Linked DNA regions of Homo sapiens. The protein of the gene in region 6 interacts with the protein of the main gene of each other region in a pairwise test. Each region holds a gene or a part of one and is shown on either strand. Other genes may lie near its edges.

Evidence for each region.
Region 1: the proteins of KRT31 (region 6) and DEF6 interact in binary tests that used the Homo sapiens proteins (3 or more experiments, as listed by UniProt).
Region 2: the proteins of KRT31 (region 6) and NUFIP2 interact in binary tests that used the Homo sapiens proteins (3 or more experiments, as listed by UniProt).
Region 3: the proteins of KRT31 (region 6) and CATIP interact in binary tests that used the Homo sapiens proteins (3 or more experiments, as listed by UniProt).
Region 4: the proteins of KRT31 (region 6) and PRPF18 interact in binary tests that used the Homo sapiens proteins (3 or more experiments, as listed by UniProt).
Region 5: the proteins of KRT31 (region 6) and C19orf73 interact in binary tests that used the Homo sapiens proteins (3 or more experiments, as listed by UniProt).
Region 7: the proteins of KRT31 (region 6) and KIAA1217 interact in binary tests that used the Homo sapiens proteins (3 or more experiments, as listed by UniProt).

What each region holds. Positions count from the first base shown.
Region 1 is NC_000006.12:35,307,372-35,311,508, reverse strand, and holds part of DEF6 (differentially expressed in FDCP 6 homolog), read right to left. Parts: intron 1,840-4,137; coding exon 1,699-1,839; intron 1,051-1,698; coding exon 865-1,050; intron 1-864.
Region 2 is NC_000017.11:29,255,891-29,260,027, forward strand, and holds part of NUFIP2 (FMR1-interacting protein NUFIP2), read right to left. Parts: 3' UTR 1-4,137. UniProt on the Homo sapiens protein: Binds RNA.
Region 3 is NC_000002.12:218,362,839-218,366,975, reverse strand, and holds part of CATIP (ciliogenesis-associated TTC17-interacting protein), read right to left. Parts: coding exon 4,074-4,137; intron 2,349-4,073; coding exon 2,224-2,348; intron 312-2,223; exon of another isoform or gene 178-311; intron 50-177; exon of another isoform or gene 1-49. UniProt on the Homo sapiens protein: Plays a role in primary ciliogenesis by modulating actin polymerization.
Region 4 is NC_000010.11:13,624,965-13,628,798, reverse strand, and holds part of PRPF18 (pre-mRNA-splicing factor 18), read right to left. Parts: intron 1-3,834.
Region 5 is NC_000019.10:49,117,553-49,120,820, forward strand, and holds C19orf73 (putative uncharacterized protein C19orf73), read right to left. Parts: upstream 1,592-3,268; 5' UTR 1,471-1,591; coding exon 1,081-1,470; 3' UTR 850-1,080; downstream 1-849. Other genes in the region: LIN7B (protein lin-7 homolog B), read left to right, coding at 303-466, 800-821.
Region 6 is NC_000017.11:41,394,357-41,399,020, forward strand, and holds the start of KRT31 (keratin, type I cuticular Ha1), read right to left. Parts: upstream 3,253-4,664; 5' UTR 3,184-3,252; coding exon 2,836-3,183; intron 2,640-2,835; coding exon 2,557-2,639; intron 2,221-2,556; coding exon 2,064-2,220; intron 1,268-2,063; coding exon 1,106-1,267; intron 1,015-1,105; coding exon 889-1,014; intron 713-888; coding exon 492-712; intron 1-491.
Region 7 is NC_000010.11:24,215,167-24,219,303, forward strand, and holds part of KIAA1217 (sickle tail protein homolog), read left to right. Parts: intron 1-4,137. UniProt on the Homo sapiens protein: Required for normal development of intervertebral disks.

The DNA.
Region 1 (4,137 bases), on a different chromosome or scaffold from region 6:
GACTTTCTGGGGGATCCTGGGTCTTGTTTGGGTGTTTAGTAGAGGGCACTGGTTCAGGGCTCGGGTGGTTCCCTTCATCACCCTTCCCACAAACAGAAGCCAGGACAAATGTGAGTGGAGCTTGACATGCTAGGGCTTCTTGTAAGTACAGAAGCCCCCTCTCCTGTAAACCCCACTCTAAAGACCTAAAGTCACCCTGGCATCTCCACAGCCACCAAGAGGACTAAAGGGTCACAAGGCCAAATGGGCAGGGGAGGGAAGTGAGGATAAGAGGGAGGGTACAGGTGGATGGGAAAATGCCTTCCCTGGCTTCACCCAGGAGTAAGGAGATAGGGACCAGATTCCCAGCCTTTTCTCCCAGGATGCCCTATCCCTGGGTCTCTTAGCTGAGTTTGTCCTGGCTTTCCAGAAGAAAGGCAGAAAGGGAAAATCTGGAACCAGAGTAACCTCCTGTCTCAGAAAGGTCTCCCCTTGCCTTGTAAAGCATCCTTCCTGTCCTGGAAGAAGTGGCAAAAGGTAAAGGAAAAAAAAGCACCCTTCCTAGATTGCCAGTAATGCTCAGTAATGTATCTGGCATTTAGACCTCTGTGTAAACAGAATTTGCAGATCATTTTCCTACAGTGAGGACCAGCAGAACCCTCATGAAAGTGTAATTTCAGTTTTCCTGGAAGAAGGCAAAATTACTCTGACACAGGCAGTTCTAGGCATCTGGAGACAGCTGGGTGAGGACAGATACCAGCATGGGAAGATGGTAAAGAAAGAAAGGGGATATGGGAAGGCACCAAAGGTGGTTTGGTCTCATTCATGGTTTTGCTTAGGTCTGGTCCCAAGTGATTCAGTCCCTGGGGCTGCCATCACCCTCACCTCATCAGGAACCATGATCAGAGGGTACTTGTCCTCAGACAGGAAGTTGAAGAGGCACCAGAGGCGGAAGGCATCCTGATTGGAGAGCATACTGTTCCCGTTGCTATCTGCCCGATAGTTCTTCTTGGCCGTCAGCGTCCAGCACAGCTCATCAAAGTGCTCTTTAACAAAAGCCCCCTCCTCCACCTGCCACCAGGGCTGCAAATCAGCTGACTGCATATCTCAGCTCTACCACGACACTAGGCTCCAGCTGGGTTTCTTGGGTTCATCTATGCCCCTGCTCCCCACCTGGCCAAGTCCAGGGCCCTAACTCAAGGGATCCCTGAGCTGATTACCAGGTAACTAGCTGGTTCCAACCACTCCACCCTCCACAACACACCCACACCCACCCAGGCCCCCTGACAACAGATTAACTCTAGTCTTTCAGCCCAGAGGACAAAGAAGGAGAAACCCAGCAGGAAGCTAAGAGCCAAGAACCTGGAAACACAGTGACAGATTGGAGGAGTTGGAGGGGGAGTTCAGGGGGACAGTCTGGGAAGGGTGGAGAACCCTGGAAGCTGGAGGAGGGCCGGGCAGGGATTCGGTGGAAGGTTATGGGTAGGGTGGGGCCCACCTCATTAGAGATGAGGGACATTGAAGGTGAATTGAGGGGGACAGGAAGGGGGCAGGTGGCTGGGATGTGAGGGACGTGATGGGACAGCAGTCACGGACAGAGCAGGCAGAAGTAGGAGTTTATGGCAGGGGCGAAGAGTTGGAGTGGCAAGGTATTAGGCTGCTGGCCAGGCTGGAAAAGTGGGGAGAGGTTACAGATGCTCCCTACAAGCTGGGCCCCACCTTGTCCAGGATGTACTTGTTGAGGTAGGGCATGTATCCCTGGCTGGACACAGGGCCGTCATCATCATCTCGGAAGTGTTCCTCCAGGGCCACGGGGTCATGGGGGATGTGCAGGACCGTGTACAGGTTGTGGGACAGCACCTGGGATAGAGTAGAGTGGCAGTGTGTCTTTCTGCACCCCAACCAAAACTGGGCCAGAGGACTGCTCCCCACCTCTCTGCTTGTCCTCACCCCATCCTGGCTGAGTTCTCTACACACACTGTTCAGTTCAGTAATAACTAAAACTTATATACTATGTGCCAAGCACTGAGCTAAAGTACTTTACATATCATTTGCTTAACCACCATAACAACTACTCATATACCCATTTTACAAATGAAAACTCCTGCAGCCCTGAGATATTTCTCACCCAAGGTCACAGCTGGCAGAACTGGAATTCAAACCCATGCAGTTATACTCTTAGCCACTTCATTAGGTATTGGTGTCCTCTTTCTACAGACAGGGAGACTGAGGCTCAAGGGATTCAGTAACTTGCCAAAAGACCCACACTGAACAAGAGCTTGGAGTTCAAATCCATCTCCATCAGATTCCAAAGCCCAAGTGCTTCCCACAATGCTAGACAGTTTGCAGGGTTTGCAGGGACTTAGTCTGCCACCCCAGGGCAGAAGCTGCCAATTTATCATGGTTTCCATCAAAGACTCAGTGTCCTGGCTGCAGTGTGCCTATCACCTAAGCGTGTCTGCTCTGGGAGAGGAGAGGGCTCAAAGAAGGGTCATGAAAAATGGTCCATGACATGGAGAGGGCAAGGCTTAGAAGGGATAGTGGTCATAATGGTGTGCAGGGGAAATGTGGGTTTGTTGAACAAATCCATGATATTAGAATAAAGGGGTTGAAATCTGAAATCTGGTGAAAATAAAATCTCCTTGGGGTAATTCTATTATAGCATTTGTCACAAGCAGTGTAAATGATTAAAAAGTCACTAGTTACTATTGCACACTTACCATATGCCGGTCACTGTAGGAGGTGGTTTATTTAATTAAAACTGTTTTTTATTTTATTTTATTTTATTTTATTATTTTATTTATTTTATTTTATTTTATTTTATTTTATTTTATTTTATTTTATTTTATTTTATTTTGAGACGGAGTCTTACTCTGTCACCCAGGTTGGAGTGCAGTGGCATGATCTCAGCTCACTACAACCTCCACCTCCTGGGTTCAAGTGATTCCCCTGCCTCAGCATCCTAAGTAGCTGGGATTACAGGCACCCACCATCACATTCAGCTAATTTTTGTATTTTTAGTAGAGACAGGGTTTCACCATGTTGGCCAGGCTGGCCTCGAACTCCTGTCCTCAGGCGATCCGCCCACCTCGGCCTCCCAAAGTGCTGGGATTACAGGCCTGAGGCACCATGCCCGGCCAAAACTTTTTTTTTTTTTTTCGGTAGAGACAGAGGTCTGCATATGTTGCCCAGGCTGGCCTTGAACTGCTGGCCTCAAGTGATCCTCACATCTGGACCTTCCAAAGTGCTGGGATTTCAGGCATGAGCCACTACACCCAGTCAAAGCGCTTTTTATACCCCATTTCTAGTCTTCACAATCACCTATATACGCAAATATTATTAAGCCTGTTTTTCAGGTGAAGACACAGAGGTTTGGAAATTTTAAGAGTAAATGGCAGAGCTGAGGTTGAAACTAAATGTGCCTGGTTCACAGGTTGCCTTCCTACTAGAATACTGATGTCAAGTCTCCCTCCTCCGTTGGATTGTGAACTCTGGAGACAAGGTCTCTGTTCATCTTTATGTCCCTCAGCATCTATGTCCTCTTTTGTACATCAAGTGCAATCAATACATGCTATATTGAAGGGCTTCTTCCACCACCAGCAGTTCACCTTGGAATCAGTTCCTAGGAGGCAGGAGCTAGCACTGTCTCGGAGATGGTGTGTGTGCCAAGCCTTCATTTTATTCTCTTTTCAGAGAGGAGGGGGAGAAAGTATTGAGACTTTGCCTCAGTGTCCTCCTGGGGCTCAGTTTTCCTTGGCAAACTGGGAAGTGGGAGATCCCAGGAAGGGAGTATTTCCTTTTTTTCCCTCATTTCCCTCTGGGCAGTTATCCCTGGAGTTTTTGGTTATGTGAGCCAATAAATCCCCTCTCCCTTAAGCCATTTGAGTTTGGTTTTATCACTAATTCCAGGAAAGTCTTGCCTAACACATCTGTGGTCATAGAATACCAATCCCCACTCTAAGGGGTGCCACTGGCTCAATGCCTAGCACTTAAAACCCAGGGTGACCACCTCAAGAGAATAATGCCAACATCCACTGACCACTTCTGAAGTGACAAGTGTTCAAGTTTTATATATTCTCATCTGCTGTCTCTTGGCCTCTTTTCAAACTACCCGTGTCCTTATCTTTTTTTGAGACGCGTTCCAAATCTGCCGCCCAG
Region 2 (4,137 bases), about 12 Mb from region 6:
ATCTACAAATTTCTCAAGTTTTTTTTCTGATAAAATAAGTAAATCTGGGTATGGTTGTAGAGTGTTTGTAATTTATATTTTTAAAACACTGAACATGATGAAGACATCAATAAAGGAAGATCATCACGTAAATGACACTTCCTCAGAATCCATGACATCAGAAACAGCTATAGCAAATACCTAAGCATTTAGCAAAAGGGAAAATTTCTGGTGACTGTTCTTATATGTAGAAAAGACCTATATTTTTGACTGGGCAAAACAAACATTGAAACTTTTTTTTGAGCGGGGGGAACATCCTTTAACATAACTGTACTCCACTTATTATCCATTCCCCCAGATTAAGAGGTAACTCAGCTCCTTAGTGCCTCTGCACGAGACAGAGAAATTACTTCACTCCTCCAGTAGGTTCTAAGACTGAACATAAGTGAACTACTGACAGATGCGGAAGAGGAACCATAGCCATCTAAAATGATGCTTGCTACACTCCTGCATTTCTGCCTTTTAAGGCCATGCAATTAATATGGGTCACCTTTTAAGTCTTAACTGGATAACTTAGTTTTTAACTGCCACTATCAATGAAGATACATATAGAAGGGTTTTGCTGTGTCCTCAAAGGCAACAATATACTTGATGAAGAAGTAACCCTCTTCTGTATATTGAAAAAGCTATAAAATGGAAATATTTATTTTTTATGTAGGAGCATGGGGAAAATGCTATCAGTAATATCTTCTACTTAAACATATTAGCCTCTCCTACAAAGGTCCTGAACCAATTAAAAAAAAAAAAACTTTAAAAAAGATGATTTGACAAAACCTGGGTAGTAGTACATCTACACATTATAAGTACACATACACAAAGTAAAGCTATTTAGTACATACAGATTGCAGCACTTGAACCAAATGTACCCAACTCCTAAACTTGTTCTAATCAGCTTGGGCAATTTTTTAAAAGATACACGTTATCTTTAAAACAACCAGTGCTTTGATCTTACAAACAACTGAATAATTCTAATCTCAAGCCAGTCAATTCAGTAAACCAAATTTATGCTAAAGCAATAAAGGTAAAAGCCTATCCTACCTTTAAACCAGCTTTAAGACAAAAAATCGTCACCAAGTTCCATATGACAAAAAAGGGTCTTTCAGTTTGAATTACTTTCCATTTCTATTTGATCAAATAAACCAAAATATTACTAAGGAAGAGCATCCAATGATTTGTAAAGCTGATAAAACTGCCCTGTTTCAAGAAAAGCTCTTTAATAGATACAAGTCAAGCTCTCGTTTAAATTGAACTTTATTAAAATAGGTGCCAGTTTTCCTCTCTCCTAGTTCCACTGATGAGCTAGCCCAGAACTATGTAACTTTGAGCCAAGTTTCCAAAGATGGTAAAGCTAACAACAGCAAAGTAGTAAGGACAAATCGGTCACTTTTGGTAATGACACACAAATTAAACTTTCAAAACATGTGCATAGCTTTATTCATCTACTTAGATCTAACCTTTTCACGGAGCTTCGGCAAAATTCGAGTGTGCAAAATGCATTTCTAAAACGTAATGCAAGCAAAGCTTTCACATTTACACTGGCAGGAAATACAGAGAGAAACTAACAAGTCACATTAGGGAAAATTCAGATCTTTTTTTTTTTTAATGACAAGAATTGCACAGTTTATTATTTTGAGACAATTGTTGCAGACATAAATATTTAAAATTTTCTAAGCAAGGTGCTTTTAACAAAATTTTTAAAGTTGGAAAGAGCTGATAACTTGGATCATAGCTCACACAGAATTCCAAATTAAAGTGGACTCCATTATCTCCCTATATTTTGCAAACAATGCTTTGTATAACACTTCTTTAAAACACTAAAAGAGACAGCAAGCTGAAACTTTTTTCAAAGCACACAAGAAATGTTTACTTGAAGAAGGTGCTGAGGGGAGAAGGGAGTGAAGAATCCTTTTACTATTTCCCACTACAGGACAGCCACTAACAGACTAAGAACAAAAAAGATACAACAAAAAAAGTAAATCACTTCCCCAGCTTATAAAATAGTTCCAGTTTCGCAAGATCTGTAACTTTAAACAGAGAGCACCAGTTGGGCAATAGAATGAGCATTTCATACTGCATAAAAATTAGTGAGGTGGTAAGAACCATCGACTATCTCAGGCATTACTACATGGCGTTTCCAATTTTTTTTTTTTAATATACATGCAAGGCACATTGATATAAAAATAGATCTCTGGCCAACAAATATATTAAATAAGCAAATTAAAATTTTGGCTTTGCGATATTGGCAACATCAAAATATAACCAGATAGCTTTGGCCCACACATCTTTCTCATTCCTCCACCTCATTTGGTGTTTCCCACCCATTATTTTGGGTTCAATCACCTTCAAGTTTGGGTATGTGCTTGAGAAATGACTTTTCTTCTTGTCAAGTAGCATTCACTAAAGTTTTCCTTTGCTAAGTAAAAAGACAAGAGAAACAGCTGGAGTTTTGATTGATTTGATTTAAACTAAATCTGATTGGTTCAGGGCAGCACTATTTCCCCTCTATATACAAACAAAAAATAAGTCCCCAGCTTACATAGACAAATGTTTTCTAAAAGATCAGCAACAAATCAATGACACCACGTCCTTTAAGCCATTCTTCCCAATTCCTCTTTCTGAGGCAGAGAGAGGGAATAATAGAAACAAAGCTAAGATTTAAACTATTTTCAGTAGTAGAAGACATTTAAGGCCAAAAAGTGTACTATTAACAGAATTCTTATATTCCTAAGTTATTGTCCTTCATAGGACAATATCAGCTAAGAATTAGTTACTTGTATTGATTCCCTCCCAAAAAGAATTTTATAATTCATTCACTCTTGTTAGTGGCTGTGCTACAGGAAAGGTATCAAAGCAACCTATGGTATATGTATGGTATATAGTAATGTAAAAAGTGCATCACATTCTTGATTTTCAGTTTCTCATAGCAGCAGGATTAATCTAAGACAGAAAACAGTTGTATTTTCATTCTTAAAATGCAACAATATCTAATGAAATGTATTCAAGATCATGAAAGGATCCTCCTCTATGAAGGATAAATGAAAACAGATTAATAATAGACAAACAGGGTAAACTAAAGGCATTCATTCATATTTACATATTAAAACCACTTTTGTTAACACCAAATCTTTACATCTAGCAAAAGAAATAAGCATTTTAAGAATAAAGCAGACATCACTAAAGCAGTATCCATTTTCAGAGCCTTTGATTAGCACCTGAGGAAAAAAGGGTACATGGAAAGCTATGTAATTTGCCCTCAAGTTAATTTGTTGGTCTGAAGAGTACAACAACTTTGATATGCACTGAAAGTAAAACTAAATTGGAAAATAAATGTTTGTAGTTAGTTTAATAAGGCTGTAGAAAAGAGATACTTGGCCGGGCACGGTGGCTCACACCTGTAATTCCAGCACTTTGGGAGGCTGAGGCGGGCAGATTGCCTGAGGTCAGGAGTTCGAGACCAGTCTGGTCAACATGGTGAAACCCCGTCTCTACTAAGAATACAAATTAGCCAGGTGTGGTGGTGTGCGCCCGTAATCCCAGCTACATGGGAGGCTGAGGCAGGGGAATTGCTTGAACCAGGGAGGTGGAGGTTGCAGTGAGCCAAGATTGCGCCACTGTACTCCAGCCTGGGCAACAGACAGTCCGTCTCAAAAAAAAAAAGGTGGGGGGGGGGGGGATACTGCAGTATTATAAAATGGCTTTAGAACTCTGCACATAACAAAATTGTATGGAAAATAGGGAAGTCTGAATCAGCAATCCCATCACATATGAGGACGGCCATTCCATAGTTTCTAGCCCATAACTGATTTACCATTCCCAATAATGCAAGAGCAACATACCAATCATGCTGCAATGGGTGTTTTTATTATGCAGACAACCGAAAATTCTATTCGCACTATTGCTGGCATCCTTTAACTACTTTAAGACCTTTCTTGAGCGGCAAAACAGTGTGAAATTTAAAACTCAGTAAAGCAATGCTTTTGAGTGGAGCCAATGATTCATCACTCTCCCAGGTGGTCCTGGTTCTCACACAGGTGATGTATATTTTAAAAGAAACATTTTAAGATACCAAAACAGAAGCCCACCCTTTTCACCATGAAA
Region 3 (4,137 bases), on a different chromosome or scaffold from region 6:
GCTATGGACTGAATTGTCTCTCTAACCCCCAGTGTGGTGGTATTTGGAGGTAGGGGCTTTGGGGAGGTCATTACGTTTACATGCAGTCATAAGGGTGGGGCCCGAATCAGATAGGATTAGTGCCCTTATGAGAAAAGGGTGATGCCAGAGAGCTTTCTCTTCACTCATGCACGGAAGAAAGGCCATGTGAGGACACATTGAGAAGGCACTTGTCTGCAAGCTAGGAAGACAGCCCTCACCAGAAACCAACCCTGATGGCACCATGATCTTGGACTTCCTGCCTTCCAGCAAATATATTTCTCTTGAAGCCACCCAGCCTGTGGTGTTTTGTTATGGCAGCCTAAGCAGACTCCTACATGACAGTGCCCCTTGAGAGACCTGTCCCGGGCCTCTTTACTTCTGCCTCCCTCTCTTGTTTATTAAGTTCCTGGGTGGTGTTCATTTCTGGATCTCCAAATAACGCACAGGGCTTGGCAAGTATTAGGCCCCCTGTTTAAAAAAAACAAAAAGGATCTTTAGAGGTACAGCACTCGAAAATCATGGAGCCTCTTGGCCAGGCACGGTGGCTCACGCCTGTAATCCTAGCACTTTGGGAGGCTGAGATGGGTGGATCACTTGAGGTCAGGAGTTTGAGACCAGCCTGGCCAACATAGTGAAACGCCGTCTCTACTAAAAATACAAAAAACTAGCCAGACGTGGTGGTGGGCGCCTGTAATCCCAGCTATTTTGGTGGCTGTGGCATGAGAATCACTTGAACCTGGGAGGTGGAGGTTGTAGTGAGCCAAGATTGCATCCCTGTACTCCAGTCTGGGTAACAGAGCGAGACTGTCTCAAAAAGAGAAAGAGGCCTGTCGCAGTGGCTCACACTTGTAGTGGCTCACGCCTGTTATCCCAGCACTTTAGGAGGCCAAGATGGGCAGATCACTTCAGGTCAGGTGTTTGAGACCAGCCTGGCCAACATGGTGAAAGCCTGTTTCTACTAAAAATACAAAAATTAGCCAGGCGTGGTGGCAGGCACCTGTAGTCCCGGCTACTTGGGAGGCTGAAGCAAGGGAATCACTTGAACCTGGGAGGCGGAGGTTGCAGTTAGCCAAGATTATGCCACACATTCCAGTCTAGGTGACAGAGCGAGACTCTGTCAAGAAAGAGACAGAGAGAGAGAAAGAGAGAAAGAGGAAGGAAGGAAGGAGAAAGAAAGAAAAGAAAAATTATGGAATCTCCTGCTATGCGGCATTCAAAATAAAAAGGTTGGCCTGGAGCTGTGGTGCATACCTGTAGTCCCAGCTACTAGGAAGGCTGAAGCAGGTGGATTGCTTGAGCCCAGGAGTTGGAGGCTGCAGTGGGCTATGATCGCACCAAAACCGAAAACATACTAAGTTATGAGATAAAGCCAACAATGTTTTGATTACCTTTTCCCCAGTGTAGTGATTATGTGAATATCTATTCTGAAATTTTAAGAAATAAACTCGACTGGAGTCTGTCTCAAAAAAACAAAACAAAACAAAAAAACAGAAAGAAACTCTTTCTTCCACCTGAATTTTCTTTTTCTTTCTTTTTTTTTTTTGAGACGGAGTCTTGCTGTCACCCAGGCTGGAGTGCAGTGGCGCGATCTCGGCTCACTGCAAGCTCTGCCTCCTGGGTTCACGCCATCCTCCTGCCTCAGCCTCCAGAGTAGCTGGGACTACAGGCGCCCACGACCACACTTGGCTAATTTTTTGTATTTTTAGTAGAGATGGGGTTTCACCGTGTCAGCCAGGATGGTCTCAATTTCCTGACCTCATGATCCGCCCGCCTCAGCCTCCCAAAGTGCTGGGATTACAGGTGTGAGCCACCACGCCCAGCCCTGAATTTTCTTATGATTTGGAGCCAGTGCTTTGCTGGAGACTGCACGGCAGCCTGCCACAGGCAATTCTTCCAGCACAGTGATTTCATCAAGTGTGCAGTCATTCAGACCTTGGTGTTTTTCAGTATTATCCCTTACACAGTGGTGGCTGCACTAGCTACACCCCAGGCCTGTGGTGTGCAGTGAGAAGGTTTGGGAGGCACTGTGAGGGTTAAGAGGACGAGCAAATAAATGAAGAAAGAGTGAATGATATGGATAAAGCGGAGGGACACTCCTATCTCAATGCCAGTTCTTCCTGGTGCTATCCCCAGAAGCAGCCGGTCTCCTTGAGCACCTACAAGCTCAGCACCACCCCTCTGGGCCCACCATCAGCAGCTCACCCATCGGAGAGCAGGTAGTACTGGCAGGACATGGGGATGCCCTCCTCCGCGTGGACAGTCTGCTCCACGATGAAGACTTCAGCCTGCTGATGGTCTACCTGGATGGTCTGGAAGCCCAGGTTTTGCTGGCAACAGCCAAAATTGGGGGGTGGGAGGTAAGGTGGATGCCCGCCAAGGGCTCCCCATCATCTTACCTTAGCCTTTTCTCCATCTCATAACAACCTCAAGACATTTAATATTGCATCTCCAAACCTCCAAGCTGAGTTGGCGACCCCTCATAGGGAGCTAGCTCCAGGTTGCCCTTGCCCTGACCCCTCCCATGTCATCTCGCTGACCAGGTGCTTCTAGTTGGCAAATTCTGTTACAGGGATGAGAAGCGGTATGCGGGGGGGTGTGGGAGCGGAGAGGTAGGATGAGCTACTAGGGCCAGTGGGTGGAGGTAAAGTGAGGCTCAGAGGTGTGAGACCAGACAGATTTGTGGCCACCTCAGACCTGTGCTGTTGCTGGCAGGCTGTCCCTGTTGTGATTAAAACTTAAACCCCTGTTGTAGCTGCAGCTATGGAGAAAAAAGTGCTAATGTTAAACACATGTTTCAAAGAACACGGAGGGGAATGGATTGTGCTTGTTCATGTCAAATGCATTGCTGCTTGGTGTGTTTTGATAGACAAGCCTGGAATGTAATTTACAAAGATGGTCAAAGAAACACAAATCAGCCCCCAAAGTGTCTCACTGGAAATTGTGTGTTCAGTGGCATGGCTTTAAAATCACTGATTGCAGGAAGTCCTAGGCATGCTGATTATGAAATTTTAGTTAAAAACAAAAAACAAAACAAAAACGGAACACCCTTTGGGGTTAAGAAATAATAAAGGAATATTTCAGTAAAGTTGGACATGTTACACTTCCTAAAGTTAAAAAATGATTTATTTTTATTTATTTATTTTTTTGAGACAGAGTCTCCCTCTGTTGCCCAGGCTGGAGTGCAGTTGTGCGATCTCAGCTCACTGCAACCTCCGCCTCCTGGGTTCAAGTGATGCTTCTCCTGCCTCAGCCTCCCGAGTAGCTGGGATTACAGGCACTTGCCACCACACGCAGCTAATAATTTTTGTATTTGTAGTAGAGACAGGGTTTCACCATGTTGGCCAGGCTGATCTTGACCTCCTAACTTCAAGTGATCTGCCCACCTTGGCCTCCCAAAGTGCTGGGATTACAGGCATGAATCACTGCGCCTGGCCAAAATGACGTTTTTTTTTTTTTGTTTTTTTTTTTTGAGACAGAGTCTCGCTCTGTCACCCAGGCGGGAGTGCAGTGGCGCGATCTCGGCTCACTGCAAGCTCTGCCTCCCGGGTTCACGCCATTCTCCTGCCTCAGCGTCCTGAGTAGCTGGGACTACAGGCGCCTGCCACCACGCCCCGCTGATTTTTTTTTTTTGTATTTTTAGTAGAGGCGGGGTTTCACCATGTTAGCCAGGATGGTCTAGATCTCCTGACCTTGTGATCGGCCCGCCTTGGCCTCCCAAAGTGCTGGGATTACAGGCGTGAGCCACCACACCTGGCCCAAAATGATGTATTTTTTAAATCAGCCCTGCACTATATTTATTTTTCCTGGACTGACTTCTGTGCGGAAGGGTTGCTTCTCTGAACTGTTCCCACTTCTCAGTCACTCTCAATTCATCTGCCCCACACTCCCAGACAAACATGCTTTCCTGCCCTTGAAAGCCCCATTCCCACCTGTGCTGTTTTCTCCCCACCTGCCTCCCTTTTCTACTCCACAGCTGTTCCCCATCTCAGTGCTTTTCACGCCTTTTCTAGTTCGCTCCCAAGCCAAGTCCCCTGCCCAAGGGGACCCCTTACATAGGTCAAATAGCAGAGTTTGCCCTCGGTGTCCAAGGTCAGGAAGCGGGCATTGCTGGGCACC
Region 4 (3,834 bases), on a different chromosome or scaffold from region 6:
TCCTTGTTTACAAGGAAAGACTTTGCCAAAGGTCTTACTGAAATCTACGTAACTTAACACCTGTTAAGCTCAATAAAATCACCAAAACAAACAAACAACACAAAAATCCCTGCAAAATCTCATTGGTCCCATAGTAAGCAGACAACACAAATATTAATCACAGTCAGTATCCATGGGTTATGTGTCCATGGATTCAACCAACCCTGGTTAAAAAATATTCAGAAAAAAACGGCAACAAAAAAAGAATTAAAAATAATACAAATAAATATCATATAATAACTATTTAAATAGCATTTACATTGTGTTGGGTATTGTAAGTAATCTAGAGATGATTTAAAGTATACAGGAGGATGTGCATAGATTATATGCAAATACTATGTCATTTTCTATCAGGGACTTGAGCATCCAGATTTTGGTATCTGCAGGGTCCTGGAACCAATCCCTGAGGATATTAAGGGACAAATGACATACTTCTATGAATGGAGCCATAATCTAACAGATTCCACATCAGAGAAACAAGACTGTGAAGTATTTAAAGTCCTTGGTGGATTCAAGGATTGCCCACATTATGAGATTTAGGAATTAGGGGTGTGGAGGGAGGTTATCTTTCAACTGATTCACAAGAAGGGCTTTTGCACACGTCATTCACTTGGCTCCTTTTTGTTGTTGTTGTTCCCTGTGTAATCAGGTATTTGCTTTGGGATAAAGACCATTCCATCACATAGTCCAGCTTATCCTGCTGTGAATTCTAATCATGTGTATGCAGAACTTTGATCGGTAGCCATGGAAATATAGATGATAGCACTAATTTGGCATCTTAAGGTTCCTGAAGGAATAGGTGAGAAGAGGGGCAAAGTCAGGCAAGAGAACACCCTGATGAAATACAAATAGCTTCACTCAGCAGCAGAGCATGGCAAGAATTGTTATGCGCAAGCGGAAGGCAAACTGATGGTTTGCCTTGGAGGTGGTTTTCCCCATGTCAGAAGAATTGGAATCTTAGGTGTGTGCTCCTTACAGAAGACGTGTGTGATGCCTATTTATACTCACTAAGCAGATTCTATGATTTAAAAACATATACTAGTGTTCTCCCTGAAATCTTAGCTGCCAAGGGTTGTGAAACTCAATTGTTTTAGTCATAAGTAGTTACCACAGAGCGGTATGATACATTTTTGTAAAAAAGATTTGAGAGTGCATGGCAGAGATAGGTGTGTAATCTCAGGACAGAATATCGTTATTTTCCAGATGGAAACAAATCTTTTCAATTAGACCCCTCAGGATTTCAGTTTCAAACTGCTTATGGATGCTTAAGCCAGTAAAACAATGAGCTGCTTAGCTTAGCTTATGGCAAATGGCTTAAAAACTTGTGGTATTTTTAATTGGCTTTTTATTTATATAAAGGCAATACCCTTATCTAACAAATGTTTATTCAGTGCCTACTATACATACTGTTCTAGGCTCTGGAAATACAGTAGCGAAGAAGCCAGAAAAAATCCCACCCTCCTGAGATCGAATTGTGGTAAGGGAAGACAGGCAAGAAACAAAATAAATTCATAAAAAAAAATTTTCAACGATGCTAAGTGCTTTGGAGAAAATAAAGCAGGCAAGTGGGGTAAGTGGACGTGTGGGGCAACCTGAAGGACTTTGGCTTGGACTCTGTGAACTAGGAAGCCCCTGCAGGGTTCTGAACAACAGAGCAACACGATCTGACTGTATGTGAACTGGATCAGTCTGGGGAATGCTGCTAAGAAACTGGAGAGGAGCAATAAGAGAAACTCAGGGACCAGAGAGAAGACACTGGAATAATTCAGATGAGAGGTGGTGGCTGGACCCAGTGGCAGCAAGGAAGGTGGTGAGAAGGGATCGGGCTCCAGACATACTTTGAATATAGAACCATCAAGCTTTGACATGGATAGGATATGGGTTGTGACAGGAAGAAAAAAGCCAAGGATAATTCCGGGTTTTCTGTGTACACTGTTTGAGGGGAAAAAAAAAAAATCACACGATTCTTGTATCAAATAATAGCAGTCCTCTACCTCACTCTTTCCAAATCCTAATTCCAGCTCTCCACAGGCAACCCTTTTCAAACGTTTTAAGTGTTTCCTCTGGCATTTATTGCCACATTTCTAAATACTATACTGACAGTGCTTGGTTTTTCCACCAGATATTAGTGATATCTCCTGACTTCCTACTATGAAGCAGAGGATATCTCACTCTTACACCACTGTCCACTGGCCCCACATATGCACGCACACGCCTCAAAAGCACTTTCTCCCACATCCTCCCCAAACCACATTTTTAGTGAAATCAATATTCAGGGTTTTCCTTATAAAGGCTACACAAATATCGTTCAAAGCAAACCCACATAACATATTATGATGATGACCTCTCATAAGTTTTTTTCCCCTTTTTGTTTTGTTTTTCTAATCCATTCTCCAACATGAGACTACCCTCACATGCCCAAACATCACTCAGGATCTGATCAGACATGCCAGGGAATATAAGCTCTTCCATTTCTTCCTGGAGTCCTTCAACCATCTACTCTAACCTGGACCCACTTGTACTGCTACCATCCTGGAGCATGACATCCCTGCAGCTCCAGCCTGGGGATTCCTCTCGCCTTGCTCTGTGGTGGATCTCAGCTCTTGGATCTTTTTCTTTGGATGGAGGACATCCTCAGGTAGAGTCAAGACTGCCCACATTCCAATCCCAATTCTACCACTGACTAGCCATGTGACCTTGAGAACTCACTTCTCTACGCCTCTTCCCCACTTACAAAACAGGGAAATGTGAGTGTCCATCTCATATTGTGGCTGTAAAGTACTGAAGGGAAGCACAGTAAGCACTACTTAAGTGTCAGCTATGACGATAATGACTACAGAGAATGTGTGCATGGGAGATGTCATTAGCCTATATTTACCCTTCACTTGATGGTTCAGAAAGGAAGAGAATTCTGAGTTGGACAATATTTCCCTAGCTATTGCAAAGGTACTGCTCTACTGTCTTCTACCTTCTAGTGCTATCAGTGAGAAGTATGACAGTATTTTAATTCCTGCACCTTTGTAAGCGACCTTTTCTCTGAAGTCTTTGAAATCTTCTCTTTAGCTTTGGCCTTCCAACATGCATTCTTTTGTGCCTTGATGTGAACTCTTCCTATTCATTTGCGCTGTATTAAGTGAATTCTTTTCATTCTACAAACTCACGTCCTTCAGGTCTGGGACGTTTTCTTACATTAATTCTTTATTTCCTATCTTCCCTTTTCTGTTGTAATGGCTATAAACGTTATAGATTGACTCTTATTTTCTTACCTTTCCTGCTTTTCATATTTCAACTTTATCTTCTAACCCACTAATGTAATTACTAAATTTTTGCTGATTTAAATTTTTGCTAATTTTTAAGAGTTCATTTTGATTCTCAAACTTTTTTATAGCCTAATGTTCTTATTTCATGGCTACAACGTTACCTAAGAATTTTTTTGTTTGTTTTGTTTTCAGACCCGTCTGTCACCCAGGCTGGAGTGCAGTGGCACGATCCTAGCTCACTGCAGCCTCAAACTCCTGGGCTCAAGCAATCCTCCTACCTCAGCCTCCTGAATAGGCATGCACCACCACGTCCAGCTAAATTTTTTATTTTTTGTAGAGAAGGGATCTATTTTGCCCAGGCTGGTCTAGAACTCCCGGTCTCAAGCACCCCTCCCACCTCAGCCTCCTAAAGTGGTGGGATTACAGGCATGAGCCACCACGCTTGGCCTCTAAGGATATTAATTATCATTCTCAATGAAATTTTTTTCTGTTCTCTATAATTCTGTTTCTATGAAGGTCTTTTTTTCTGTGTGTT
Region 5 (3,268 bases), on a different chromosome or scaffold from region 6:
GGACAAAAAAGAGGGAGTCAAGGCGGGCGGACATTAGTGGGCTGTGGGCAGGGAGGCCACAAAGATGGGTCTGGACGTTTGGCCAGGGACTGAGGGAACACGGGGCTGTCCCTGACATGGGAATCCTGGGAGGTTTTGGAGGAGGACACTGAACCAGGAGTTAATGACTCCCACGAGGAGGACATGAGGCATTGACATCTCAGGGCTGGCACCAGGCTCACTAGCAGTGGGTCCCATCTCCCAGTGGGGGCTGGACGAGGGCAGCGGGCCCCAGGCTCAGCTGTCTGTGTTGGGCCCTGCAGAGCGTTGAGGGTGAGCAGCATGAGAAGGCGGTGGAGCTGCTGAAGGCGGCCCAGGGCTCGGTGAAGCTGGTTGTCCGTTACACACCGCGAGTGCTGGAGGAGATGGAGGCCCGGTTCGAGAAGATGCGCTCTGCCCGCCGGCGCCAACAGCATCAGAGCTACTCGTGAGCCCCTGGGTCACCACACCCCTGGGGCCTCCACGGGCTCCCTTTAACCCCAGGCTCCCAAACCAGGCCAGTGCTTCCTGGATCTTCCAGCCCTGGCCCCTCCTCTGGGATCCTGACCCTTGACCCTTGGCCCAGGCTCTCACCCCAGGCTAGTTTGGCCAAATCCCCTGGGGAGCCCTTAGCTTCCTTCCATCCCAAGATACGGAACCTACTGTGGCTGGGATCCCTCAGCCCACTTACCTGGGCCCTTGCCTCTGCAACCCCAGTCCTGCCCCTCTTGTCTACCCGGAGCCTCCCTGATCCCGGGTCCCTTGTCCACCCCCCTTGCAGGTCCTTGGAGTCTCGAGGTTGAAACCACAGATCTGGACGTTCACGTGCACTCTCTTCCTGTACAGTATTTATTGTTCCTGGCACTTTATTTAAAGATATTTGACCCTCACTGAGTGTCTGTGTGTCTGTCCTGCATCCCTGGGTTGGTGTCTTGAGATGTGGAGGGAATGCGAGGAGCTGAGGTCAGGCCAAGCCGTTGAGAAGCCTTTTCCAGAGTCTGAGAACAGAGGTTAAGACCTCTCCCTAGGTCTGAAGGCGGAGACAGGCCGGCTTCCAAGAGACTAGTCCGAGGGCGGAGGGCGGAGGCAGGGACCCAGTCTGGGTCTGAGTGCTGGGGCAGAACTGAGGACAACGCTGCCTACCCTTAAGAGCGTCTGAGGGCGAAGGCCAAGTCCCTTCCTCCAGAGTCCTGAAACGCAGCCGGAGCCAGTGGGCGGCCTCTGTGTGGGCGGGGCGGAGCGAACCATTAGCCTCGTCCGCCGGGGGAACCCTGCAGGCCGCACTACTGTCTGCGTGGGAGTCGCGGGTGGGGGTGCCGCGTGCAGTTCCCGAGGCGGGCGCAGGGGTGCAGAATGAGGTGCCCTCGCCCACCGGGCGCTCACTCCACCTTCCAAACACAGCGCGTCTTTCCGGAAGCAGCCCCCGCCTTGAAATCCAACCTTTAGCCTCATCCCGCTGCCCGCCCAGCCCTCGTGTCCCGTGCGGCGCGAGGGCTAGTGCGCGCCACTGCCGGGAGCCGGGGTCGCGACTCGCGTTCCACGCCGCGCGCTACTCGCTCCAGGTGACATCATCCCCCTGCCGGGCTCCGCCTCCCGCCCCAGCCGCCTCACGCCGCGTGCCTATTGGTCGACGCGCCTTATGCCCCGCCTCTCGCTCTCCGCCCGCGCGACCCCTCCCGGCCGGTGTGGAGGCGGGGTCTAGTCGCCGGCCGGCGCCGACGCTCTCTCCCATTGGCCGCTCTTCGCCGTCTGTCAGTCTCCTGTTAAAGGGGCCACGACCGCCCGGGAGCCGTGGGGGGGGAGGGGGAGGGAGGAGGAATTTTTTTGGGGGGAAGGTGGGATTTGGGGGGCGCTGGTGGGCACCCCTGGATCTGGCGGCTGCGGCCTCGCGGGGGGAGGCTGATCGGTGACAGGGGCAGGGGGCTATTTTGGGGGTAGAAGGCAGTGAGAGCGTGAGGGGGAGGGGGGTCCCCAGCGCCCAAGCCGGAGCCAGAGACGCGGAGCCCGCGCGAGCGTCGGAGACAGGGCTCCAGGGCTCCGAAGCGACAGAGCCGGGCCCCGGCCGCTGCCAGGGGCCCCGCCCGGCCCCCCCACTCCACCCCACGTCCCTCCTGCAGCCCAGCTCCGCCCGCAGCCGCCGCGGACCAGGCAGGTAAGAGCCCGGCCCGGCCCTCCTGGCAGCGCCCACCCTGGGGACCCCTTGGCGAGCCTCCCCCGCCTCCCCGAGATCCCGGATTCCCTTCCTCATCCCAGGGGACCCCCGAGCCCAGATTTCACACCCCAACCCCGGGGACTCAGGCGTGCCCCTCCCGGCGCCCAGAGTCCCCGACCGAACCCTAGAATCCCGGGCGCACCGCCGCCTCGCGCCTCCTCCAGGGCCCAGGAGCTTGGATTTCCCGGTCCGGCCCCGGGACCCCTCCTAGAGCCTAGATCCCCCTTCCTGACCCTGTCCTGGGAGCTCCAGACACCCGCCGCGGCGGTGCCAGACTCCCCAGACGCGTCCGCATCGTCCCCGCTTCGCGCACTCCGTCTCCCGTCGCCAGCCTCGGGCTTGCACAGCCGGCTGCGTCCCACGGTCCAGGCAGGCTCGGCGGCCGCCCTGGACACAGGCCCGCTCTGGAGCTGTCCATGGTCAGCGCGCTCGGCAGCCTCGCCTCCCCCCACCTCCTGCCGCCGCCACCAGGGAGGGGGCGCAGGCGGCGCGGGGATCCCCCCGCCGCGCCTTTGACCCGGGAATACCCGGGCCCTCCCCGACCAGGGCGCCCCAGCCTCTGGGTTCTGCCGGCCAGGCTCGTGGCCCCGTCCTCGGCACCCCAGGTTCCTGGGACTCCAGCTGCTCCCTGAGGATCCAGGGCTTCTGAATTTTCCTATTCTGGTCGCCGTGGGGACCATGGCACCCGGGGATGCAGCTCCCACCCCGTTCGGGAAGCCTGTCCGTGTCTACACCTCTGCTGGCCCCAGGTGGTAGCCCTCACCCCGTCAGCACCTAGGAATCCTGTTCCCCAGCGTTTGCTCTGCTTAGAACCCCGCTGTGCCCTGCAGACACACAGACTTAGCCTCCTGGCACCCAGCATCTGCTCCCCGAGGGACTCAGGCGCCATGACTCCTTTCCTTTGGGGGACCCGGAATGTGATTCTCAATGCAGTTCTCTGACTTCTGTTCACACTCCCACTTGGGGACCTAAATGTCTTGGTCCCAGTCTCCTATCCCCTCAGGGACCCAGGAGTTCAGACCCCAGCTTCCGTACTGC
Region 6 (4,664 bases):
ACCAAGGTAGACAGAAACTCTGAAACTCTGATGTCTACTCTCAAATCCATTCATGCCAAACTGATGACATGGGGTGAGTCATTTACCTTCTCCAAGCCCCAGTTTACTTTCCTGTAGAATGGAGGGAATACTGATCCAGCCCACCTGGTGGTAATTATAAGATCAAATCAGGTAGCCTATGGGAATGTACCCACTAGGCAATACAGTATTGTAAAAAGTAAGGCATTGATCACATATCATGCAGTCATGCATATTATCATACTAGAATGCAAAGACTTGGCAGTGCAATTTCAGTTTGTACATCAAACAACTCTTGCTACCAAACCATTTATGTTTTAAATGATGGCCATATTATGTTGTCTGAGTTCTGTTTGAGCATGTCTAGTGTGAAGGCATAATTTCCTTTCCAAGGTATGCAATATTTGCATGGTGTCTAACTGTTACACTCACACGTGCATCATTTCATCAAACACGTCTGCCCATGTACTCACTTGCAGTCCTCGCTCTCCAGCAGGCTCCGGTATGTGTTGATCTCACACTCCAGCCGGGCACGCACATCCAGCAGCACCTGGTACTCCTGGTTCTGCCGCTCCAGGTCACTGCGGATCTCCGCCAGCTGGGACTCCACGTTGGTGATCAGGCTCTGCACCTGGGACAGCTGGGAGCTGTAGCGGGCCTCACTCTCTGTCAGCGTGTTTTCCAGAGAGTCTCGCTGTGGTGGAGAAGATTGGGAATGTCAGAGAGCTGCTCCTTCAAAGGGTTTCTTCACAGGATTACAAGGAAGTCACAAGCTCCAAGAGCTAAGGAGAGTGTGTGGCCCCAAGCACATCCCCGGGACTCTGCCTCCCAAGTTCCCGTCGCTCACCAGCAGGTCTGAACAATACACACCAGGTTGTGCTGGGCCTGCAGCTCGATCTCCAGGGCGTTGACTGTGCGTCTCAGCTCGATGATCTCCGCCTGGTAGGACTGCAGCTGCTCTGAGCTGGATACCACCTGCTTGTTCAGCTCCTCGGTCTGAAACACCCAAGGGGAGAAAGGATCAGACCCTGCCTCCGGGGCCCTGGGGGGCCTTGGGTCCTGAGGGGCCACGTGCTTAGATGCCCACCTGCGTGGTGAACCATTGCTCCACTTCCCTGCGGTTGGTTTCCACCAGGGCCTCATACTGACTCCTGGTCTCGTTCAGCACCCGATTCAGGTCCACAGTGGGAGCAGCATCCACCTCCACATTGAGGCGGTCTCCAAGCTGGCAGCGCAGGGTATTGACCTCCTATGGATGCAGAAAATACAAGAGTTACTATGCTCAGCAAAGAATGAACTCTAAGGAATGGCATTGCTTGTTGAAACCCTGTTAGTCTATTTTCTCGGAAAAGAAACTTTGAGTGGAGCAGTTTGTGACAGCTCAAGGCACTCCATGTGGCATAGCCCCCTCCCCACCATCTGCTGTGCCATGGCACTTGGCTTCAGAAAAAAATCCCAAAAGTTTGCTTGGATGCCACTGAAGGATGAACTAATTGATATTCAACTTTCCCAGTTTACAATTGGCTGTGAGGACCTCAGAATGCCAAAAAAAATAGGCTGTGCAATTTCAGACCATATATCAAAAAACTCTTGCTGTCAAGTAAGAGGTAAGAGCATGTCATGGCCCCTCCCAAGAGAGAGGAAGAATCTCACAAACACTCTTCACCAATACTTTGAAAGAGTAGAGACTCACATTTATAAGGTTTGATATTTTTTTTCTTGGCCTTTGCCAAAAAAAAAAAAAAAAGACTTTACAAAGCAATAACACTGCAATGCTAGGACTCATTCTACAACTATTGATCAACTGCAAGCACATGGAGCTGCTCCGGGCAACTCAAATAATGTGCTAGTTTAAAGTGAAAGATGTTTCCTGTCTGGGAACATGAACAGGTCTTATCTCTCTCCAATTTTTCTCTTACCGTGATGTTTTCAAAGGAAACCCTCAGTCTTGTACTCATACTCTGCATTCTGCTGCCCCAAATCACTAAAGCAACCCTGAGCCAGAGGCTGAGACAGGTTTGTGCATTTCTCATTTCTAGTCTCACCTGCTCATGGTTGCTCTTGAGGCAGAGCAGCTCCTCCTTCAGGGACTCCACCTGGGCCTCCAGGTCGGACTTGCACAGGGTCAGCTCATCCAGGATCCTGCGCAGACCGTTGATGTCCGACTCCACCAGCTGCCGCAGGGACAGCTCGGTCTGGTACCTGCGCAAGGACAGGGTCAGAGTACTACCTGGTAGATCTTCAAGACTCACAGGAATGATTTTTGATAACCTCATGTGCCTTATCTTTCCACTTTCTGTAATGAATAGGCCCAGGAGACAGAGGTTTCTGGAGGCTCCATCAATACCCAATATTCATCCCAAAACAAACAGATTGATGTGAGTCCTCATCCATTTTTGCATTTCTTTGCTTGGTTCTCCCCAGTCCTCTGCAGAATCCTTCACAACAAGTGGGTAGATCTGTTTTCAGATGGAAATCCCTTTTCTTTAAAGATTAAACAGAAGCAATTGACACTAGTGCAAATTCCGAACAACTCACTTGGTTCTGAAATCATCCGCAGCCAGCTTGGCGTTGTCGATCTGCACCACAAGCCTGGCATTCTCAGACTTGGTACACAGGATCTGGGGAGTGAGAGGTGGCTTAGTGAGGACTGAAAATAAATATGAAATCATCAACTTTTTAAAAATGACTTAAGCCATTTTGAAATAAAAGAGGAAGCAAGAATTATGACAGCACAGAAGCAAGAAACACACTTCTCTATCACAGACAGAATCACAGCAAACTCTCTTGCTTGGAGATGACAGCAATGCCGCTCACCTTCTGCTGGAGCTCCTCAATGGTCTTAAAATAGGACTGGTAACTGGGGCACAGCAAGGGCTCCTGCTGCTGAGACCGCTCCCGGATGAGGTTCTCCAGCTCCGCGTTGTCCCGCTCCAGCTGACGCACTTTCTCCAGGTAGCTGGCCAGGCGGTCGTTCAGGAACTGCATAGTCTCCTTCTCGCTACCATTGAAGGAGCCCTCGCAGAACCAGTTGCAGTTGCTCACATTGGCGGGGATGTTGCAGGCCCCGGGCAGGGTGCAGCTGTGGCAGCTGGGGGGCACGCAGGGCCGGGAGGAGCAGCTGGTGCGGCAGCTCAGGCTGGGCAGGCAGAAGTTGTAGGGCATAGTGCTGGGAGGGAGGGAGGGAGTGCCTGGCTGAAGACAGAGTCTAAATTCTCCAAGCCACAGAGCTGTGGGTCTCCTTCCTCTAGGGAGCATTTATATCCCACTGCAGAGGGTGTGGACACAGTATGTAATGTCTTTTTTCTTTTTATTTCTTCACTTCTTTTCAAACGCCCTTTCCTTCAGTCTGTTATTTGCCTTCCTCTGAAGAGTCCCTTCTCCCATAAAATTCTTTACTTGGGCTTCTTGCTAAGTCAGGACTCCTCCGCAGACAGTCCACCCATGAAATCAGAGTTCTGTGGTAGGCCTTCAAAGAGGCTACACAGTCCAGCCCAAGTATCTGCCCTCATTAATTGAGGTGTTGATCCATCCGATGACATTCTTTTGTGTCACATAATTCTGCAGGCCCATAAACATACTCATGTCCTGGTCCACCTGCCGTTTCTAGGGAGAAACACGGATTGATTTGAGGAAGAAGTTGCATTAAGAGGCCACAGTGGACTGTCTTTCCCTCTGCATTTAGAGAAGAATCTTCAAATGATGGAGCATTCTGTGCCTTGGAAGCCTTAAGGTGGATGATTAGAATCAATGGAGGACACGACTGAAAAGATTAGACAGCGATTTGTGTTTTACGGGTCCGTGTAATACTTCCCCCCCACCACCACATATTACTTAAGAAAATTGTAGAGGAGAGAATTTTAAAGGTAGAGGCTTTGATAACTAGTTGGAGAACAAGAAGTTTCTGGGGTAAGAGATCGTTTTGAAAGAGGCTGAAAAGTGCAAACCGAGAGAGCCATAAAAAACACATTTAAGGCTGGGCACAATGGCTCACGCCTGTAATCTCAATACTTTGGGAGGCCGAGGCCGGCGGATCACGAGGTCTAGAGATAGAGACCATCCTGGCCAACATAGTGAAACCCATCTCTACTAAAAATACAAAAAAATTAGCTGGGCATGGTGGCACCCACCTGTAGTCCCAGCTACTCGGGAAGCTGAGGCAGGAGAATCACTTGAACCTGGGAGGTGAAGGTTGCAGTAAGCCGAGATGGTGCCACTGCACTCCAGCCTGGTGACAGAGCAAGACTCCATCTCAAAATACAAAACAAAACAAAAAAAATGCATTTAAATAATCTAGGAAAGATATTCAGGGGCAGAGAGAAAGGAATAAGGAGGTCTTTGTCAAACATTTCCTAAGGTTATCCATAGTATCCGAACAGAGTAGATGGATATGTTAGGAAAGTCAGGAGATAGCCCAAAGGGGCCTCCACGGCCTGAAATCACTTGTAGTTGATCTTTAAACTTCATATGAATTGACCCTATATTCCATAATATATCCATGTTGGCTTTAATCTTTATATATATATATATATATATATTTTTTTTTTTTTTTCAGATGGAGTCTTGCTCTGTCACCCAGGCTGGAGTGCAGTGGAGCGATCTCGGCTCACTGCAAGCTCCGCCTCCCAGATTCATGCCATTCTCCT
Region 7 (4,137 bases), on a different chromosome or scaffold from region 6:
CTGCCTTGTCCTCACTTCTCCAGGGAATGTTCCAGGGATTTTGCTCGGCTTTAAGCTCCTATGTTGCTCTTTGCCCTGCTTGAAGTGAGCTCCCAGGAGGAGTTGCCCTGGGCTCTGCAGAGGCTGGGAGGGGCAGGAAAGGGAAACAGGACTGCCTTTCAGCAAGCCCAAGCCTTGCCTTCATGCTACAGCTTCATTATTTTGTTTGACAAGGATTCCCAGAATAGCGAACAGCTAGACACACCCATATTTAAATGTTAACACCAAAGCGCATTCCAAACAAGAAATCGAATTGTATTTCTGTTTTGATGACTTGGATAATCCACACTTGAGCTTTTCTCTATTCATGTGGATAATGAGGAGTTGGCCAGGCTCAGATCTCTGACAACATGGCTGTGGAATTGTGACTAAATGTCCTCTGCCTGATCCCTCTCTAGTTTGTAATCATTCTTAGTTTTTCTCCACTGAAAAGACCACATTCTCCTTAAATGGCTGGAATGGCAGAGTTGTTGCTTCTCCCCCAGGTGTGGGGCTTGACGCTTCCAAGAGCTGAGCCTTGTCGAGGAAAAGGCTCAAGTGACAGATGTGCTGAAGTGCCTTTGTGTGGAAAGTGGCGTTAGGTGGCTCTGAGTGCTGGTGACAGGAGAGCAGGTGCCTCGAGGTAGGAGGGGAGGCAGACAGGATGATAGAGCATTGGGCATTGGGTGGAAGGCACAAGGCAGGAAATTGAGACAAAAGGAAGGAGTGAGCTCCAAAGGCAATCCGATGTTTGCCAAGTGGCTGCATTGAGCCTTCTAGCCTTGCTAGTGGTTGATGCTTTTTGTACCTTTCCTCTAAATCGCATCAATCCTTGTTAAGCAACTGGAGATATTTTGGAAAAATCCACAAGAAAGAGAAAAAACAGAAAAGCAACATGAGGTGAAAAGTGCTAGGAAAAAAACAGGGGTCTGATGAGTCTAGTCCAGTAAGTCAGGGCTGCTCAAAGATTAATGTGGACTGAAGATTGGCTCTGACCCCCAAAACTCTCCCCTTCCATCTCCCTTCCCAACTCATTTCAAAGAAGAAAGAGGGTTTATTGTCCCGGCTGTCTTGAACTCTCTTGATGCTCTTTGGATGAAACAGAATAGATCATATGAGCCTGTGCAGCATAGTAAGGCAGGATGCGACTTTCTGCCGTTATTGCCGTTGGACATGCATGGATGTTTATCTGTATGGCTGTATGTGTGTATGTAGACAGATGTGTGTATGCCTGCATAAGAAATCACCTTTCCAGAGGCTCAATCCTGTTAATTCATCTAGCTGTCCTGGATAACTTAAAATATATTTTCTTAATAATGTCAAAACTAATCTTCCAATTCCACTTAAAAGTCAATAGCATTGCTGGGTGTGATGGCTCATACTTGTAATCCCGGCACTTTGGGAGGCTGAGGTGGGCAGATCACTTGAGGTCAGGGGTTCGAGACCAGCCTGGCCAACATGGTGAAACCCCATCTCTATTAGAAATACAAAAATTAGCCGGGCATGGTTGCGCACGGCTGTAATCTCAGCTACTCGGGAGGCTGAGGTACAAGAATTGCTCGAACTCGGGAGGTAGAGGTTGCAGTGAGCTGAGATCGCACCACTGCACTCCAGCCTGAGTGATGGAGTGAGACTCTGTGTCCAAAAAAAAAAAAAAAAAGGTAAAAAATAAAATAAAATACATAAAAATAAAAATAAATAGCCAGATGTGGTGGCACACATCTGCGGTCCCAGCTAGTCAGGAGGCTGAGGCAAGAAGATTGCTTATGCCCAGGAGGTAAAGGCTGCAGTGAGCCATGATCATGCTACTGCATTCCAGCCTGGGTGACAGAGCAAGACCTTGTCTCAAAAAAAAAAAAAAAAAAAAAAAAAAAGGCAAGAGTGTTAGATCAAGTATACAACAATTTTGGCTGATATGAAACACATGCACAGCACTCAAAAGATAAAGCTAAACCTCTTCAGATTGCACAGGTATTTATCAACCTGAGAGACAGCATTTTTGGCATCTAGCTTTGTTCAGTAGATCCTGTTATTTCTCTGTTATTAAGGAAGAGATCATTTTAAAGGTAGCCATGATGTGAGTCTAAGTGTTGGAAGCGCAACCTAAATAAATGAAATGACAGTTTAGCCCCCAATATCTTTTAAACCAATAGTTCCATCTTCTTCTCCTTGTAAACTTACTGCTGAAACTAATGAAAAGTAGAAGAATTGACTAATTTGGCTGTGCTTTTCCTTCCCTTCCCCATCAGTGTCTGATGGAGATGCTATAATTAGCAATGTAATGAGAATTGAAGGGTAAACAAGAAGAATTATTCCCAGAACACACATCAAGGGTTAGAAGACTGGAACAGGAAAACCAGCCTGAGATGAAAATATTTTCTCTGCCCAACCAACGGGCATCTATACCTAGAGTTCTATATACAGATCTTTCTAGGCAAAGACAAGGGAAAGAGTGGTGGTCACATTGCTTTCAGGAAACTGGTTTATGCCTAGACTCTTAACACCTGTTGCTTTGCAAAACTAGTGTGAAGGATTGGTTCTCTGTTTATCTGGGATTCAACTGAGCAGAACTCCCAAATATTAAATCTGTATTTTTCTGCACTTAACTTGTAAAGATAAATAATTGGCAAATATGCTTCTATTGGAAACTTATTTTTAAAAAAATTAGAATAGTTTTAAAAGATTTAGAGGTAGAAGGCTCTTTGCATACCTAATGTTAGTTCAGTCGTCTTCATTTTATTCATGAAGAGAATGACACTGAGAGAGGTCACATCATTTGTTCTAAATGTCGGATTAAAGCCAAGATTCCTGAGATCCAGCCTAGTACTTTTTCCAGGGAATTCAGTGGACAAGGAAACATTATTCTGCCTATATCAGCAATACTTTATGATAAGAACTGTTCTTCGTGAAGAGCCTGACTTCATGAAGAGAGCCTGTCTAACTCCTGAAGTGCTTCTGAATGTTTTACTTTTTCTCCCTAATCTATTTGTTTTTTTTAAAAAAGTAACTCTTTTTTCTGAGCTAGCTGGAATATTCATACCTGACACCCCATCTCCCAACCATCGAGGATGAATGGAGATTCCCTTTACATGCTCCCCACTCTCAGCATTGACATCATATGACTTGGTTGATCTGTTCTTAGCAGAAACCAACTTGTCCCTTCAAAGCCAGCTCAGAAGGCAGGATGTCTTAGGTCCAGGCTATCAGGATGTACCATTGCTCTTCCTTTTCACTGTGTTTTAGGTAAAGTCCACCTCAAGTAAAATTTGTCTAAGCCTTTACTTTATAACTCCTCGATTGTTACTTTTTTTTTTTTTCTTTTGAGACGGAGTCTTGCTCTGTCTCCCAGGCTGGAGTGCAGTGGCGTGATCTCGGCTCACTGCAAGCTCCGCCTCCCAGGTTCACGCCATTCTCCTGCCTCAGCCTCCCGAGTAGCTGGGACTACAGGTGCCCACCACCATGCCCAGCTAATTTTTTTGTATTTTCAGTAGAAACGGGGTTTCACTGTGTTAGCCAGGATGGTCTCGATCTCCTGACCTCGTGATTCACCCGCCTCGGCCTCCCAAAGTGCTGGGATTACAGGCATGAGCCACGGCGCCTGGCCCTCGATTGTTACTTCTGATGGTATTCTTATGCTTGCTTGGTTTATGCCAATATGAGAAAATAAAATTTTCAAATGGTTCACATGTGTCAATGATTACTTACGTACAGGGTGATAGCTATTTTTGTTCTTGGTGATGAAGCAAATGTTTCAGAAACCCGACTGAGCTTATATAAGAATCCTGTTACCAGAATGCAACTGTTATTAAAAATACAGAAATAATCAGAATCACTGGAGTTAACTCTTTCTATAATTACAGACAAGGATAAGGAATAACCCTATTGCCTGCACACAAGTAGCCTAACCAAGTGTTCTTGAGGGTTTTCTTGTTTTTGTGTTTTGAGACAGGGTCTCACAACTGTCACCTACCCAGGCTTGAATGCAGTGGCACGATCATAGCTCACTGCAGCCTTGACCTCTTGGACTCAAGCAGTTGTCTTGCCTCAGCCTCCCGAGAAGCTGGGACCACAGGCGTGCACCACTACGCCTGGCTAATTTTAATTTTTTGTAGAGATAGG